Homo sapiens: one gene and its partner. The gene in region 2 interacts genetically with the main gene of each other region. Each region holds a gene or a part of one and is shown on either strand. Other genes may lie near its edges.

Region 1 (7,136 bases), on a different chromosome or scaffold from region 2:
CCTTTTATCAAAAGGGATTGTATCTAGGGCTGTGCAAAATTCAAAAGGATCAGATCCCTTTGAAAGAGTCCATAGTCCATGAAACAAAAAATTACCTGGGCCACTGGTAAGCCCCACGTGTGCCAAGATTGCCTTACAGAAATGTAAAGAGTGTGACCCACAAAGTGAGGACATTCAGCTTCACTGGAGCCAGAGGTCAGGAAGGCCCCTTGCTGAGGCCAGGCTCCCAGACCATCAAGGGAGAGGTGGCTGCACTTGCTGGAGTCACTCACTGGAGGCTGGCTCCCTTGGTCCTGCTGGAACGAGAGGTATTGCTTGTGGACGCCAACCAGGCAGTTCTGCAGGAATAGTTTAGGTTCTCAATTTGAGATGGCCAAAGAGAAGACAGAATTCTCCAGGAGAAGAGCAAGACATGGGAGACAAATACAGAATAAAGCACAAACTGATCACACAACAGAAAAGGAGGAGTGTACAGGGTCTGGGAATCAAGACTGCAGGTTGACATTATCTACCAGCCAGAAGCAAAAAGACACAGAGGGATCAAGTCCATCTGCTGGTCTGCCTCTCACCCCTGGCCAGGGACTGGAGGTGGATGTGGGCCCATCCCGGGAGGGCTGCCAGACCCAGTGGGGCAGACTGGAATGCCTTTTCCTGCTGTTCCCACCACCTGATGCCCTATAGCTCGAAAAACCACTGAAGTCTAGTGTGCGACTTTGAAAGATTGTAATATATGCTCTGGAAAACATTCAGCAGTACGAAAGCCCTCCCTGGGCCCTCCCACCCTCTCATGGTCCACAACTGGTAGAAAGGTCCAGAAATCCTTGAGCTCTGGAAAGGTCCCTGGTCAGTCCTTGGGGAGCTCAGATAGCTATATTGGAAGAACCTGCTCAAGTACGGTTCTTGATGTCTGGGGAATCCTTTCGGGGAAGATCACTTCAAACTCAATAATGAGGTCCCCACGTTTCTCGGGTGTTTTGGGGAGGGGGAGGCCTTCTCCAGGAACTTTTCGCCGCATGCCAGGCCTGATAACATCTTTGAATACGACGGGTATCGTCCTGCCGTCCAGAGTGGGGACGTTCACTGTGCAGCCACACAGAGCCTTGAAAAGCAAAAGGACAGCATTAGATGGAAGCTGGCTCAAGAGGCTCAGCTCTTGCCCAGAGGCCGTCTGCCATAGATAAGACCCATCAGGCCTCTGCAGCTAAGACCTGGCCCCCAAATCTACACGTCCCCACCACGAAAGCTCCACAACAGCGCCCTGGTCAGTCCTGTTCACTGTTGTGCCCCAAGCCTGGCACGCACCACACACCCCAACACATTGGTTCAGCAAATACTAAACTGCTTCAAAAAGCAGCCATCGCCCTCTACAGACACCGCCCCACCTGGCACCTTACCTCCCGGAGGCTGATCCTGGCAGGATAAATGACATCAGAGCCATCTCTCTTAAAGATATTGTGGGGCTTGTCCTTTAAAACAAAGACGATATCAGCTGGAATGTTGTTGGAGGTCTGGTCTCCTTCCTTGGGGAAAGTGATTTTGGTTCCTTCTTTCCACCCCTTCTTCACTTCGATGGTCAATATTTTGTCTTCGTTTCGAATGCTCTTTCCGTCGGGGTTTAGCCGCTTGTGGGAGATTTTCATCTTCTTGGTACAGCCGCTGTAGATCTCTTCAAGGGAGACTCGAAGGTCGTGGGTGACTGGGGGATCTTGCTTCTTTCGGGCGGGCTCTTGGGCAGAGCGGGAGCGGCCAAAGTTCACGTTGGTGAAGCCACCCATGCCCATAGGGAAGCCAGAGAATGGGTCATCAATGTCCATGCCTTCCTCCCCGTTCCGCTGCCCAAAAAAGGTGTCAAAGGGATTTCTGCCACCGAAGAACTCAGCAAACATGGCATGAGGGTCTCCATGGAATGTGTAGCTGAAAGAGGTACCATTGGCACCACCGCCGCTACCGCCACTGGGGCCACTCCCCTTTAGGCCTGAAAAGCAGATTTAGAAGCAGTCAGATGGCTGAACAGCAGACTCTCTCTCGAGCTTCCCTTACAGGGGGAAACAGCTTGGAAGCCATGGGGGAGGAACTTTTTTGTCTGTCAGGGGAGAGCAAGGAAGAACCCCAAGTTTCTACCTCTCACTGCCAACAGCAGAGACGCCCCCCTACCAACAGTATTTCCGCGTAGCCTGACAGTGGAAAAGGACTCATGCGGTTAGGTGTTCACCTCCAGGTGCCACCTAGGCCCTGCCACTCCTGGACTGACCCATCCTCCTGGCAACATCACCAAGAGATGGCTAAAGACACATGGTCCAGGGTCGGCTTTCGGTAAGTGTTTACTCTCAACGTTTTAGGGCTAATGGTGCGTAGGAAGAGAAGAAAAAAAAAAACAAAAATAAATAGGGAGTTTTTAAATCCTCACACATTAGCATTCACTGCCACCATCCTTGCACAAAAAGTCAGCTCCAGATCAAGCCCAGAAGCCAGCCTGAATCATCAACGGGCACAGGAACAAAAAGCCCTGCTCTCCTTACCCTCCGAGGCGGCCCCGCTCTCCGGACCTGGGCGGCCGCTGCCTCCTGCGTGCCCTGCCGGGGCCAGGTCATCACTTCCCGGGAATTATCCCAACCCAGCCCCCAAGCCCACGAACGGGGTCGGCTCCTGCATTCACAACCCCTCGCCCCGCAGCTGAGCCGGAGGCGCCGCCCCGCGGACCCCGGCGGCCGAGCCCAGGTGAGCCCGGGTCCGCAGCGGGCTCCGCCGCGCCGTCCCCGTCGTCACCCCCGGCTCCCCCACCCCCATGCACCGCACCCCGGGGCTGCTCGGGGCCGCGGGAGGAGGCGCCCGGGGAGGGGCAGCCCCAGACATGCTAGAAGCTTCTGGCCGAGCGGCTGGGCCAAGGCTCCTCCTCCCACCGCGCGGCCGCCAATCCGAGGGCGGAGGCCCGCGAGGCCGGAGGGCGGGGCAGCTCGGCCCCACGGCCCGGGGCGTCCTTCCCGGGGGGCCGCCGAGAGGGGCCAGCGTGCCTCAGTTTCCCTGTCTGTCAAAAGGCGGGGCCGCGCCCCTGGCCGCGAGCACACACCTTCCTCCCCGTAGCGGTCGAAGATCTCGCGCTTGCGCGGGTCGCTGAGCACGTCGTAGGCCTCAGCGATCTCCTTGAACTTCTCCTCGGCGCCGGGCTCCTTGTTCTTGTCCGGGTGGTAGCGCAGCGCCTGGCGGCGGTAGGCCCGCTTGATCTCCTCGTCCGACGCGCCGCGGGCCAGGCCCAACGTCTGGTAGTAGTCTTTACCCATGACCCCCTCCTGCGGCCCGCCGACCCGCTGTCGCCGTCCCCCGGCTCCGCCGCCGACCAGTCCCGGACTCTATATACCCGTCCGGCGGAAGCTTCCAGAGCCCGCCAGCCCCCTCCAGAACCTTCCGCCCCGCCCGCCCCCGCGGCGCCGGCCAATCGCCGCCGCCCTTTCAGCGACACGCGACATCCGGGGCGGGGCCTCGCCGTCAACGGCCGCCCGCGCGGGGCCACGCCCCCTCCCGCTCCGCCCTCGGCAACACCTCCCCGCGGCGCGCGCGCACAGGTCGGAGGAGGCCCCGCCCACCTTTCGGGACGAGCCAATCGCGACCTTCTTTCCCTCTCTACGCGGCCCCAGCTACCCTGCGTCCCGCCCTCCGCCTGGGTCAGTAGGTCGGGACCCACAGCGAACTTGCTGTTCCAGGAAGGGGTGGGGCCTGGGACTACCCAGTCCTTTCCCCGGGAGGCGATGAACCTGCTCGCCCTTGTCTCGTGGGGCCTGCGGTGGGCTCCCGCCCGGTGACGCCGGACGAACTACCTAACCTGTGTCTGCCTAACCCAGGGGCCCCCTTCTATCTACAACATGGCAATAAGAGAACCTATCAGGCCGGGCGCGGAGCCTCATGCCTGTAATCCCATCACTTCCTGAGGCCAAGACAGGAGGATCTCTTGAGCCTAGGAGTTGGAGACCAGCCTAGGCAACATAAGGAGACTCCGTTTCTATTTAAGATTAACAAACAGGCCGGGCGCGGTGGCTCACGCCTGTAATCCCAGCATTTTGGGAGGCCGAGGCGGGCGGATCACTTGAGGTCAGGAGTTCGAGACCAGCCTGGCCAACATGGTGAAACCCCATCTCTGCTAAAAATATAAAAATTACCCGGGCGTTGGTGGCACGAACCTGTAATCCCAGCTACTCAGGAGATTGAGGCCTGAGAATAGCTTGAATCGGGGAGGCGGAGGTTGCAGTGAGCCGAGATCCGGCCGTTGCACTCCAGCCTCGGCAACAGAGCGAGACTCCGTCTCATAAATAAATAAAATAAGTAAAATAAAGTAAAATGAACAAAAAACCCACCAGCGCTATTCTCCCAACCGTGGGGAGAAGGATTTTGGGACGGAAGACTGCCTCTGTTCTCACCTCCTAAAGCAAGGTGAGGATCTGGACGGAAGCGCATCTCCCAAGGTCCTCCCAGTCCCGCCTTCTTCCCTTTACTGCCCTCTCAAGATCACTTGCCGCTAAATTTGAAATTTATCTTGTCTCTTGGCTTTCAATGTGTCTTCCCTCCCAGTCTGACATCGCCACCTGGGCAGGGGCCAGGTCCTGTCTGCACTGGGTCCCCAGTGCCTGGAACGCAGTGAGAACCTCATAAATATTCCCCGTTCTTACACACGTGCTTCTTTTTCTTCCCCAACTACCTTTATAATTTGGGGGGACATAGGTGTGTCACACACCTTTCAAGGCCTCTGTTTCCTCAATTGTAGGCAACACGATCGCGTTTGGCTCTGAAAGTCTGGGGTGCCTCTGTCAAGGACAGAGCTGATGGGAAAAGGAGGCTCAGAAAGGGGTTCCACCTGGGAAGGGCCCAGGGAAGTGGGGGAGGTTCCTGGAAGAACTGCCTGGGAGGTCAGAGCCATGTAACACTGGCTCTGGAACCAGACAGCTGGGCTTCATTCCCAGCTCCAGCATTTCCCGGCTGGGTAACCTTGGGTTAGTTACTAGGCCTTTGCTGGCCTTAGCTTCCTCATCTGCACAATGAGGAATGAGGATAGCAGTTGTGCCCACATCATGAGGGCTTTGAAGTTTATATGAGTCAACATTTGCAAAGTGCTCAGAGCAGGCATGGCACAAAGGAAGCATTGTCAAAGGGGTGACTAACCATTTTCTTAGTGGTGGGCTCTTCAGCCATCACCTCATTCCTGGCAGCTAAAAGATTCCAGTGACAGCTGCCCCTGGGCAGACAGGGACTCCTGAAGAAGAAGACCATCCTCCTGCCTCCTGAGGCGGGAGGATCTCTTGAGCCCAGGAATTTGAGGCTGCAGGCAGCTATGATTGTGCCACTGCACTCCAGCCTGGGTGACAGTGAGACCCTCAGCCTCCCCATAAAAAAGTTACATAAATAACTATCAGGAGCATCATGGCGGATAGTTACATAAATAACTATCAGGAGCATCCAGCAGGCAGATCTGGTTCTCTTGGCCCACTCAATGATCTCTGAGGTAACTGCATCAGCAAGAACTCTGGACTAGAACTGGACAACCCGGGAGGATGGGGCTGAAATTCCCTAGACATCGAGAACCATACTTGAGCAGGGGTCCTGAAGCAATTATGGGGAGAGAGAACTTGATATTTTTTAAAAAGTTACTAGGCTGGGCACAGTGGCTCACGCCTGTCATCCCAGCATTCTGGGAAGGTGAGGTGGGAGGATCTTTTGAGGCCAGGAGTTCCAGCCTGGGCAACATAGTGAGACCCCATCTATACAAAAAATTAAAAATAAAAAAAATTAGCCGGGTGCAATGATGTGAGCCTGTAGTCCCAGCTACTCAGTGGACCAAGGTAGGAGGATAGCTTGAGCCCAGGAATTTGAGGCTGCAGTCAGCTATGATTGTGCCACTGCTCTCCAGCCTGGATGACAGTGAGATCCTGAACCTCCCCATAAAAAAATTATATAAATAACTATCAGGAGCATTATGGGGAAAAACTCAGAGCTTGTGACTTTATAAACTAGTATTTTATAATATAAATTTAATTTAGAATTACAAGTGCAGCAGCCTCCAAAGGCTTTAACATGGCTCTGGGTGGGCCTTTCTGGTTGTTCTAAAGTTTCTTGCCATAGGCCAGGCACGGTGACTCAACGCCTATAATCCCAGCACTTTGGGAGGCTGAGGCAGGTGGATCACCTGAGGTCAGGAGTTCGAGACCAGTCTGGCCAACGTGGTGAAACCCCGTCTCTACTAAAAATACAAAAATTAGTCGGGTGCGGTGGCAGGTGCCTGTAATCCCAGCTACGCTGGAGGCTGAGGCATGAGACTCGCTTCAACCCGAGAGGCAGAGGTTGCAGTGAGCCAAGATCGTGCCACTGTGCTCCAGACTGGGTGACAGAGTGAGAGTTTCAAAATAATAATAATAATAATAATAATAATAATAATAAAAGTTTCTTGACACACTGGAGGGGAACATTTTGCTAAAAACACTGCGGAAGGGATGTCTTTGTGCTTGGGGTCAGTGTTAGAGCTGGGAACTCTCCCCTCCTTGAGTAAGCCTGGGTCATGTTCAGGAAGTTTTGTTTGTTTGTTTTGAGATGGAGTTTCACTCTTGTAGCCCAGGCTGGAGTGCAGTGGCACGATCTCAGCTCACTGCAACCTCCGCCTCCTGGGTTCAAGTGATTCTCCTGCCTTAGCCTCCCAAGTAGCTAGGACTACAGGTGCTTGCGACCATGCCTGGCTAATTTTTGTAGTTTTAGTAGAGATGGGGTTTCACCATGTTGGCCAGGCTGGTCTTGAACTCCTGACCTCAGGTGATCAACACGCCTTGATCTCCCAAGGTGCTGGGATTACAGGCGTGAGCCACCACGCCCAGCCAGTTCGGGAAGTTTTAATTTTTTTTTTTTTAATCAGTTCTAGGAGCCAGGAAATTAAACAAACAAACAAACCCAGTAACTCTCTCCTAATGGACATGGTACTGTGACCTGAACACTCACTGAGAACTTCAGAATATTACTGAAAAAATGGCCTCTGCGTCAACTTCAGCAGATATTGGGCTCTTAACTTGGAAAAGCTGTTATAGTTGTTTGTTGTGTCAGCGTGGCTAAGCTCTAGAACCTAGTTATTCAACTAAACACTAATCTAGGTGTTGCTGTGAAGTTAT
Region 2 (8,040 bases):
ACCCAAGAGGCGGAGGTTGCAGTGAGCCAAGATCGTGCCACTGCACTCCAGCCTGGGCGACAAGGGCGAGACTTCGTCTAAAAAATAAATAAACAAATAAAAATAAATAAATAAAAATACAAAAATTAGCCAGGCGTGGTGGCAGGCACCTGTAATCCCAGCTACTCATGAGGCTGAGGCAGAGAATTGCTTGAACCTGGGAGGCGGAGGTTGCAGTGAGCCAAGATCGTGCCACTGCACTCCAGCCTGGGCGACAGAGTGAGACTGTCTCAAAAAACAAACAAACAAACAACAACAAAAAAACCCCCCAAATAACCTCAACCTTAGGTTATTTAGAAGAGAAGGGGAGATAATTTTTTTTTTTTGAGACGGAGTCTCATTCTGTCACCTAGGCTGGAGTGCAGTGGCGCAATCTCCCCTCTCTGCAACCTCTGCCTCCCGGGTTCAAGTGATTCTCCTGCCTCAGCCTCCCGAGTAGCTGGGATTACAGATGTGAGCCACCATGTCCAGCCTGGGGAGATAAATTAAATGACATTTAAAAAATTTTTTTTGAGACGGTGTCTCGCTCTGCTGCCAGGCCAGAGAGCAGTGGCACGATCTCAGCTTACTGCAATCTCCACCTCCCGGTTCAAGCAATTCTCCTGCCTCAGCCTCCCAAATAACTGAGACTACAGGCGCGAACCACCACGCCTGGCTAATTTTTGAATTTTTAGTAGAGACAGGGTTTCACCATGTTGGCTAGGGTGGTCTTGAACTTCGGACCTCAGGTGATCTGCTTGCCTCAGCCTCCCAAAGTGCTGGGATTACAGGTGTGAGCCATTGCACCGAGCCTGACATTTTAAATTTGAGTAAATATTAATCTATACCCACTGGCTGAAGAAACAGCATACTAAAAACCCCGAGTTTACATTATCAATTTTTTTTTTTTTTGAGACGAAGTCTTGCTCTGTCACAGGTTGGAGTGTAGCGGCGCGACCTCAGCTTAAAGTAATCTCCGCCTCCCAGGTTCAAGCGATTCTCCTGCCTCAGCCTCCAGACTAGCTGGGACTACAGGCCCCCGCCACCACGCCAATTTTTGTTTTCGTTTTTTTTTGTTTTGAGACGGAGTTTCGCTCTTGTTGCCCAGGCTGGAGTGCAATGGCACAATCTCTGCTCACTGCAACCTCTGCCTCCCGGTTCAAGCGATTCTCCTGCGTCTGCCTCCTGAGTAGCTAGTATTACAGGCACCCACCACCACATCCAGAGATTTTGTGTTTTTGATAGAGATGGGGTTTCATCATGTTGGCCAGGCTCATCTCAAACTCCTGATCTCAGGTGATCCACCTGCCTCGGCCTCCCAAAGTGCTGGGATTACAGGCATGAGTCACCGTGCCTAGCCCTAAAGTTTTCCTAGACATGTAAAAGGGTGTCTTGCATACTGACCAAATTTGATGGACTTTGTTGCAATACCAAGTTATAATAAAAGGAACACACAGACAGATCGACTACTAACAGCACACTACTTCAAAATGCTGAAATTAGGTATTTCCTTGGCACACTTCTTAAACTTCATGCTTCCTTTTCTTAGATTTAGAACATCATTGATAAGAGGCAGAGAGAAGGATAAGACCAGAACCTCGAAATTGTAATTGGAACTGCACTAATTCAAGATTTGGCTACTCCAACTGTTTGCTCATTTAAGGGAAAAAATGAACTCAGATTTGCTGAATGAATGATGTAACACCAAAAGGACAATGATCAAATCCAAACACTGAAGCACTTCAGAAGAATCTATTTACAACAATGATTTATGTACAAAACATTCTTAGTGATTCCTGAAATTTATCATCAACTTGGCAAAGTTTATTCAGATATTTTTTAAATACATTGTTTTCTCTTTTAAAATGATCTACAATCCCCAGTTTCCATAAATTTAGACTCGTGGTCTTCCAAACTTGTCTAACACTGAAGTTCAAGGAAATACTTAAGTTTCAGGAGACATTCTGCCACCAAAAGAGGCTAAGATCCATGGATGAGACACACACCTGAACACACTTCAGCATGATTACAAAAACCAAATGGTAACAAACCTTTTGGATAGTTGACAACATACACCAGATTTCCCCAGCCAGCATCTGGGGCATGCAGAATTCCTTCTACCAGCCGGACACCTCTCATACACTGAGACACTGGATTCCTGTAGCGAAGCCCACACGCCCCTGGAAACTGGGCTGTAACCGTGGAGAGCAGCACCGTCCCATCGTCTTCCGATGGTATTTCAATGGGCTCATCGTTCTCATCTTCGGTTACCCGAATATATTCAGACATCTTTTACTTTTCCTAAAGAGAAAAGAGATATGAATGAACAACATTCATGTCAGAATAACTGTTTCCTTATAATGATAATACCCAAACCATGTCAGAGTTCTGACTTCCAGAAAAATGCTTGTCTGGATTCGTATATGCATTGGTTATCCCTGAAAAATGACGAGGTGAAGGTAAGGGTAGTGATTTCCTATCAAAATGTGATGCCTCGCCAGTTCATTCATTCAAAAAACTTTCCCTGAAGGCTTATGATGCGTCAGGTACTGAAACTGTAACTGTGAGTCCAACGTGGCTTGCTGGTTACAAGCTAGGGTATGCAAGGGAACAATAAACAGTAGCTATTTTATGACAATCGGGTTAGTCGTTAAGTAATCCTGAAGGCAGAGGAGGAGCCTAACTGGCTGAGGCATGGGCGTGATAGGTCCCAGTCGATTTTCCTAAGCAAGCGATCCATCAGCTGAACCTGAAGACTGAATATGGGCAGTGAACCAGGTGTAAAGAACAGGAGAAAAGTTTCCCTCTGTTCCTCATTTTGGGGCTTCCGGGGGCTCTGCGAGCCCGAGCCCCAAGGCCCGCGGCGACAGGTCCTGGCGGTGCCGGCCGTCGCCTCCCAGAAGCCCGCGCGTGCCAGCCGAGGGAGGAGTTTCTCGGCGCGGCCCGGGGTGGGGCGCAGGAGCACCAGGCCCAAGCTGGCAGCGTCCCTCGAAGTACAAAGTACCGAAGGCTCCGGCACTGTCCGGGTCCGGGGCCAACCTCCGCCTCAGGCTACGCGGCACCGCGGGCCCGGCCCCCCGTTTCGGCGCCACCGGCCTCCCCGTGCCAGGACCTAACGACGCTCCCGCGCGAGCCCGCTCGGGCAGGACTAGGCCCGGTCTCACGGCTGACTTCCCGGGGCAGGGTCCGAAGCCGCTGCGTCTGCCTCGGGCCGCCCCAATGCAGAAGCCGAGGCACCTACGGCGTCCTCAGTGAGAAGGCTCCGCGACTCACCCGCTAGGCCGCTGCTGGGAAGCCCGACAGGGACACCGAAGCAGCGACGGACCCAAGCGCAGCCCAGCCACCGCTTCGCTCCCACAAAATGGCGCTAGGGCCGCCTCCTCCCCCCGCCCACCGGCGTCCTCTCCCACCGGTTGCCTGTCCAGAGGTGGAAGGCACCGACGAGAGCCACGATGACCCTCTCCCCAGGGACTCGGGCTGCCTCCTGGAAATTCAAGCCTACAGAGAAGCTCTGAAAGCTAAAATAAAACCAGGACCTAGGCCTGAAAAGCTGAAGATTGAAAAAAGTGTGGCTGTATAGGAGCTGACCTCCCCCCACGTAACGTAGCAGATGGTTTCGGCCGACCAACCGCCGGCCCAGGTCTCGGTCGGAGCTCGCGCACTTTCAAAGCGCGCGAGAGTAGCACAGAGTCTCGGCCAGCGAGGGCGGGGCGGGGCGGGGCCTGGAGGGGGCGGGGCTCGGGATCCCGGGCCGAGTCCACCTGGGAGGCAGGATAAGGCCTGGACCCCTTTTCTGAAAGGCAACCTAGTGCGTCTTCTCCTCCCTCCGCCAGCCCACCTCCAAACCTGGAAACAATAACTTTGTTCTAAATAATAGCAATGATAAGGCTACTTTGTGCCAGGTACTTTCTGAGTATTCACATATTTAATAGCCCAAACAGTTTTGTGTAGCAGGAGCTATTGATATTCATTCTGCGGGTGAGGAAACTGAGGCACAGAGAGATCAAGTGTCTTGCTTAAAGTGACGCAAGGATTAGCCGGGCGGTAGTGGCGCGCGCCTGTAGTCCCATCTACTCGGGAGCCTGAAGCAGGAGAATTGCTTGAACGCGGTAGGCGGAGGTTGCGGTGAGCCGAGATCGCGCCACTTCACTCCAGTCTAGGCGACAGAGTGAGACCCTGTCCTCCAGCCCCTCCCCCCAAAAAAATGTCACCCAAGGAATAAATGGTAGACCTGGGATTTGAATCTCGAGGCACAAAATGCTAACTTGTTCTGGCTCCAGCCCTTTAATAATAATAATAATACAGTACTTCATCTATTTTAAGGCACACTTTTTGTTTCACTTTTTTTTTTTTTTTTTTTGAGACGGAGTCTCGCTCTTGTCCCCCAGGCTGGAGTGCAGTGGCGCAATCTGCAGCTCACTGCCACTTCCAACTCCTAGGTTCAAGGGATAGCTGGGATTATAGGCGTGCAAAGACACCATGCCCGGCTAATTTTTGTATTTTTAGTAGAGACAGGGTTTGGCCATGTTGGCCAGGCTGATCTCGAACTCATGGCCTCAAGTGATCCGCCTGCCTCAGCTCCCCAAAGTGCTGGGATTACAGGCACGAGCCACCTTTCTTTTCTATCTTTTCTTTCCTTTCTTTCCTTTCCTTCCCTTCCTTTCCTCCCTTCCCTCCCTTTCCCCCCCTTCCCTCCCTTCCCACCTTCCTTCCTCCCTACCTCTCTCTCTTTCTCTCTCTCTCTCTTTCTTTTCTCTTCCTTTTTTTCAGACTCCCTCTGTTGCCTAAGGTGGAGTGCAGTGGCACAATCTCAGCTCACTGCAACCTCCGCCTCCCCGGTTCAAGCAATTCTCCTGCCTCAGCCTCCTGAGTAGTTGGGTCTACAGGCATGCACCACCATGCCCGGCTAATTTTTGTATTTTTAACCCCTGTTGGCCAGGCTGGTCTCAAACTCCTGACCTCAGGTGATCCGCCCACCTCGGCCTCCCAAAGTGCCACCACGCCCGGCCTTTGTTTCACATTTCTTTTTTTTTTCTTTTTTCTTTTTTTTGAGATGGAGTCTCGCTCTTTTGCCCAGGCTGGACTGCAGTGGCGCTATCTCGGCTCACTGCACGCTCCGCCTCCCGGGTTCACTCTATTCTCCTGCCTCAGCCTACTGAGTAGCTGGGACCACAGGCGCCCGCCACCACGCCCGGCTAATTTTTTTGTGTTTTTAATAGAGACGGGGTTTCACCGTGTTAGCCAGGATGGTCTCAATCTCCTGACCTCGTGATCCGCCCGCCTCGGCCTCCCAAAGTGCTGGGATTACAGGCGTGAGCCACCGCGACCGGCCAATGTTTCACATTGCTGAAGTCAGTATGTGATTTCAGTTCCAGTTCCAGTTGATGATGATGTGTCATAGTTTAACTGGCAACTATTTATGTTTCTTTGTATATACATGTATCACACTCAATGAAATACAGTTACAAGTGTTTACACAAAATACTTTATTTATTTATTTAAGATGGGGTCTCACTCTGTCACCCAGGCTAGAGTGCAGTGCAGTGACCTCGGCTCACTGCAACCTCTAACTCCAGGGGTCAAACGATCCTCTCACCTTAGCCTCCGGAGTAGCTTGGACCACAGGTGCACACCACCACACTCAGCCAATTTTTTATATTTTTTGTAGAGACAGGGTCTTGACATGTTACCCAAGCTGGCCTCCAACTCCTGAGCTCAAGCGATCCATCTGCCTCAGCCTCCCAAAGTGCTGGGATTACAGGCGTGAGCCACCATACCCAGCAGAGAAGTCGGTTTTATCACTCCCATTTTACAGAAGAAAAACCTGAGGCTCAGAGACCATATGACAGGCCTGAGGTCATACAGTTGCTCAAGGATGTCACCTAGCCCATAAATTGCTGTCCCAGGTTGGTCAGACCCTAAACCTCTGCACTATGTCCACCACACTGGCCACTTTCTGTCACAAGACTGAGACCGAGGTATTTAGTGCGGGTAGTGCTGTGGAGTCCTGGACACTAGCTCCAAGTGGGCAGAGCTGGGTATGCAGAAGTTCCTAGAGACAGGTCACACAGGAACATGACCCCAAAGGCTGGCCCTTCTCCTAAGAAGTTTTCAGGCTAGTTGGGAGGACAAGCAAACACTGTCTCAAAGAAGGTAAGTAACTCAGGAAGATAATTATAAGGCCAGAGGGAGACTGGACCACAGATCTTCCTGCTCCTATCTCAGTTGTCTCTGGGATTCAGCTTTACAGCACTGATTGTCAAAAGTTGTTTGAAACACAACATTTTTTTTTTTCAAGACAGAGTCTTGCTCTGTCGCCCAGGCTGGAGTGCAGTGGCACAATCTTAGCTCACTGCAACCTCTGCCTCCCGGGTTCAAGCTATTTTCCTGCCTCAGCCTCCCAAGTAGCTAGGACTGCAGGCGTGTACCACCCCACCTGGCTAATTTTTGTATTTTTCGTAGAGACGAGGTTTCACCATGTTGGCCAGGCTAGTCTCCAACTCCTGACCTCAAGCAATCCTCCCGCCTCAGCCTCCCAAAGTACTGGGATTACAGGCATGAGCCACTGTGCCTGGCCCAGGCCCTGGTTTTCAACTGGGTCACTTGGGGACTTACCTTCTCCCCTTCCATCAACCCCCTTGAATTCTCCCAGCTCATCAGCTCCATGAGGCAAACAGGACACAGCTCCACAACATTCCTGAAAACTGAAAGAAGCCTGGGCGCGGTGGCTCACGCCTGTAATCCCAGCACTTTGGGAGGCCGAGGTGGGTGGATCACCAGAGGTCAGGAGTTCAAGGCCAACATTGTGAAACCCCGTCTCTACTAAAAATACAAAAAATTAGCAGGGCATTGTGGCAGGCACCTGCAATCGCAGCTACTCCAGAGGCTGAGACAGGAGAATCGCTTGAACCCGGGAGGCAGAGGTTGCAGTGAGCCAAGATCACACCATTGCACTCCAGCCTGGGCAACAAGAGTGAAACTCTGTCTCAAAAGAAAAAAAAAAAAAAGACAAAACTGAAAGAAATACTAGGGCAATAATGATACATAGATTTATTTATTTATTTATTTATTTTTTGAGACGGAGTCTTGCTCTGTCACCCAGGCTGGAGTGCAGTGGCCCAATCTCGGCTCACTGCAAGCTCCACCTCCCGGGTTCACGCCATTCTCCTGCCTCAGCCTCCCAAGTAGCTGGGACTACAGGTGCCCGCCACCACGCCCGGCTAATTTTTTGTATTTTTAGTAGAGACGGGGTTTCACCGTGTCTCAGTCTCCTGAGCTCGTGATCTGCCCGCCTCCGCCTCCCAAAGTGCTGGGATTACAGGCGTGAGCCACTGTGCCCGGCCCTATTTATTTATTTATTTATTTATTTATTTATTTATTTATGTAGGTGTGCACCACCACATCTGGCTAATTAAAAAAACTTTTTTGTAAAGACAGGGTCTCATTATGTTGCCTAGGCTGGTTATGAATTCCTTGCCTCAAGTGATCCTTTCACCTTGGCATTCCCACATGCTAGAATTACAGGCACATACCACCACCCAGCCAATAAAGATATTTAAATAAAAGTAACTTTAGGGCCGGGAGTGGTGGCTCACACCTGTAATCCCAGCACTTTGGGAGGCCGAGGCGGGCGGATCATGTGAGGTCGGGTTCAGCCTGACCAACATGGAGAAACCCTGTCTCTACTAAAAATACAAAATTAGCCGGGCGTGGTGGCGCATGCCTCTAATCTCAGCTACTTGGGAGGCTGAAGCAGGAGAATCACTTGAAACCAGGAGGCGGAGGTTGCAGTGAACCAAGACTGAGACATTGTACCCCAGCCTGGGCAACAAGAGCGAAACTCCATCTCAAAAAAAAAAAAGTAGCTTTAGGCTAGGCACAGTAGCTCACACCTGTAATCCCAGCACTTTGGGAAGCCGAGGCAGACAGATCACTTGAGCCCAGGAGTTCGAGACCAGCCTGGGCAACATGGTGAAACCCCATCTCTACAAAAAATGCAAAATTTAGCCGGACCTGGAGATG

The links.
Region 1: of TARDBP (region 2) and DNAJB1, changing one suppresses a phenotype caused by changing the other (phenotypic suppression), as found in Homo sapiens cells (one study listed by BioGRID).

What each region holds. Positions count from the first base shown.
Region 1 is NC_000019.10:14,515,072-14,522,207, forward strand, and holds the start of DNAJB1 (dnaJ homolog subfamily B member 1), read right to left. Parts: upstream 3,327-7,136; 5' UTR 3,279-3,326; coding exon 3,068-3,278; intron 2,867-3,067; exon of another isoform or gene 2,520-2,866; intron 1,976-2,519; coding exon 1,395-1,975; intron 1,100-1,394; coding exon 869-1,099; 3' UTR 1-868. UniProt on the Homo sapiens protein: Interacts with HSP70 and can stimulate its ATPase activity. Stimulates the association between HSC70 and HIP. Negatively regulates heat shock-induced HSF1 transcriptional activity during the attenuation and recovery phase period of the heat shock response.
Region 2 is NC_000001.11:11,007,995-11,016,034, reverse strand, and holds the start of TARDBP (TAR DNA-binding protein 43), read right to left. Parts: upstream 3,382-8,040; 5' UTR 3,292-3,381; intron 2,320-3,291; 5' UTR 2,308-2,319; coding exon 2,070-2,307; intron 1-2,069. UniProt on the Homo sapiens protein: RNA-binding protein that is involved in various steps of RNA biogenesis and processing.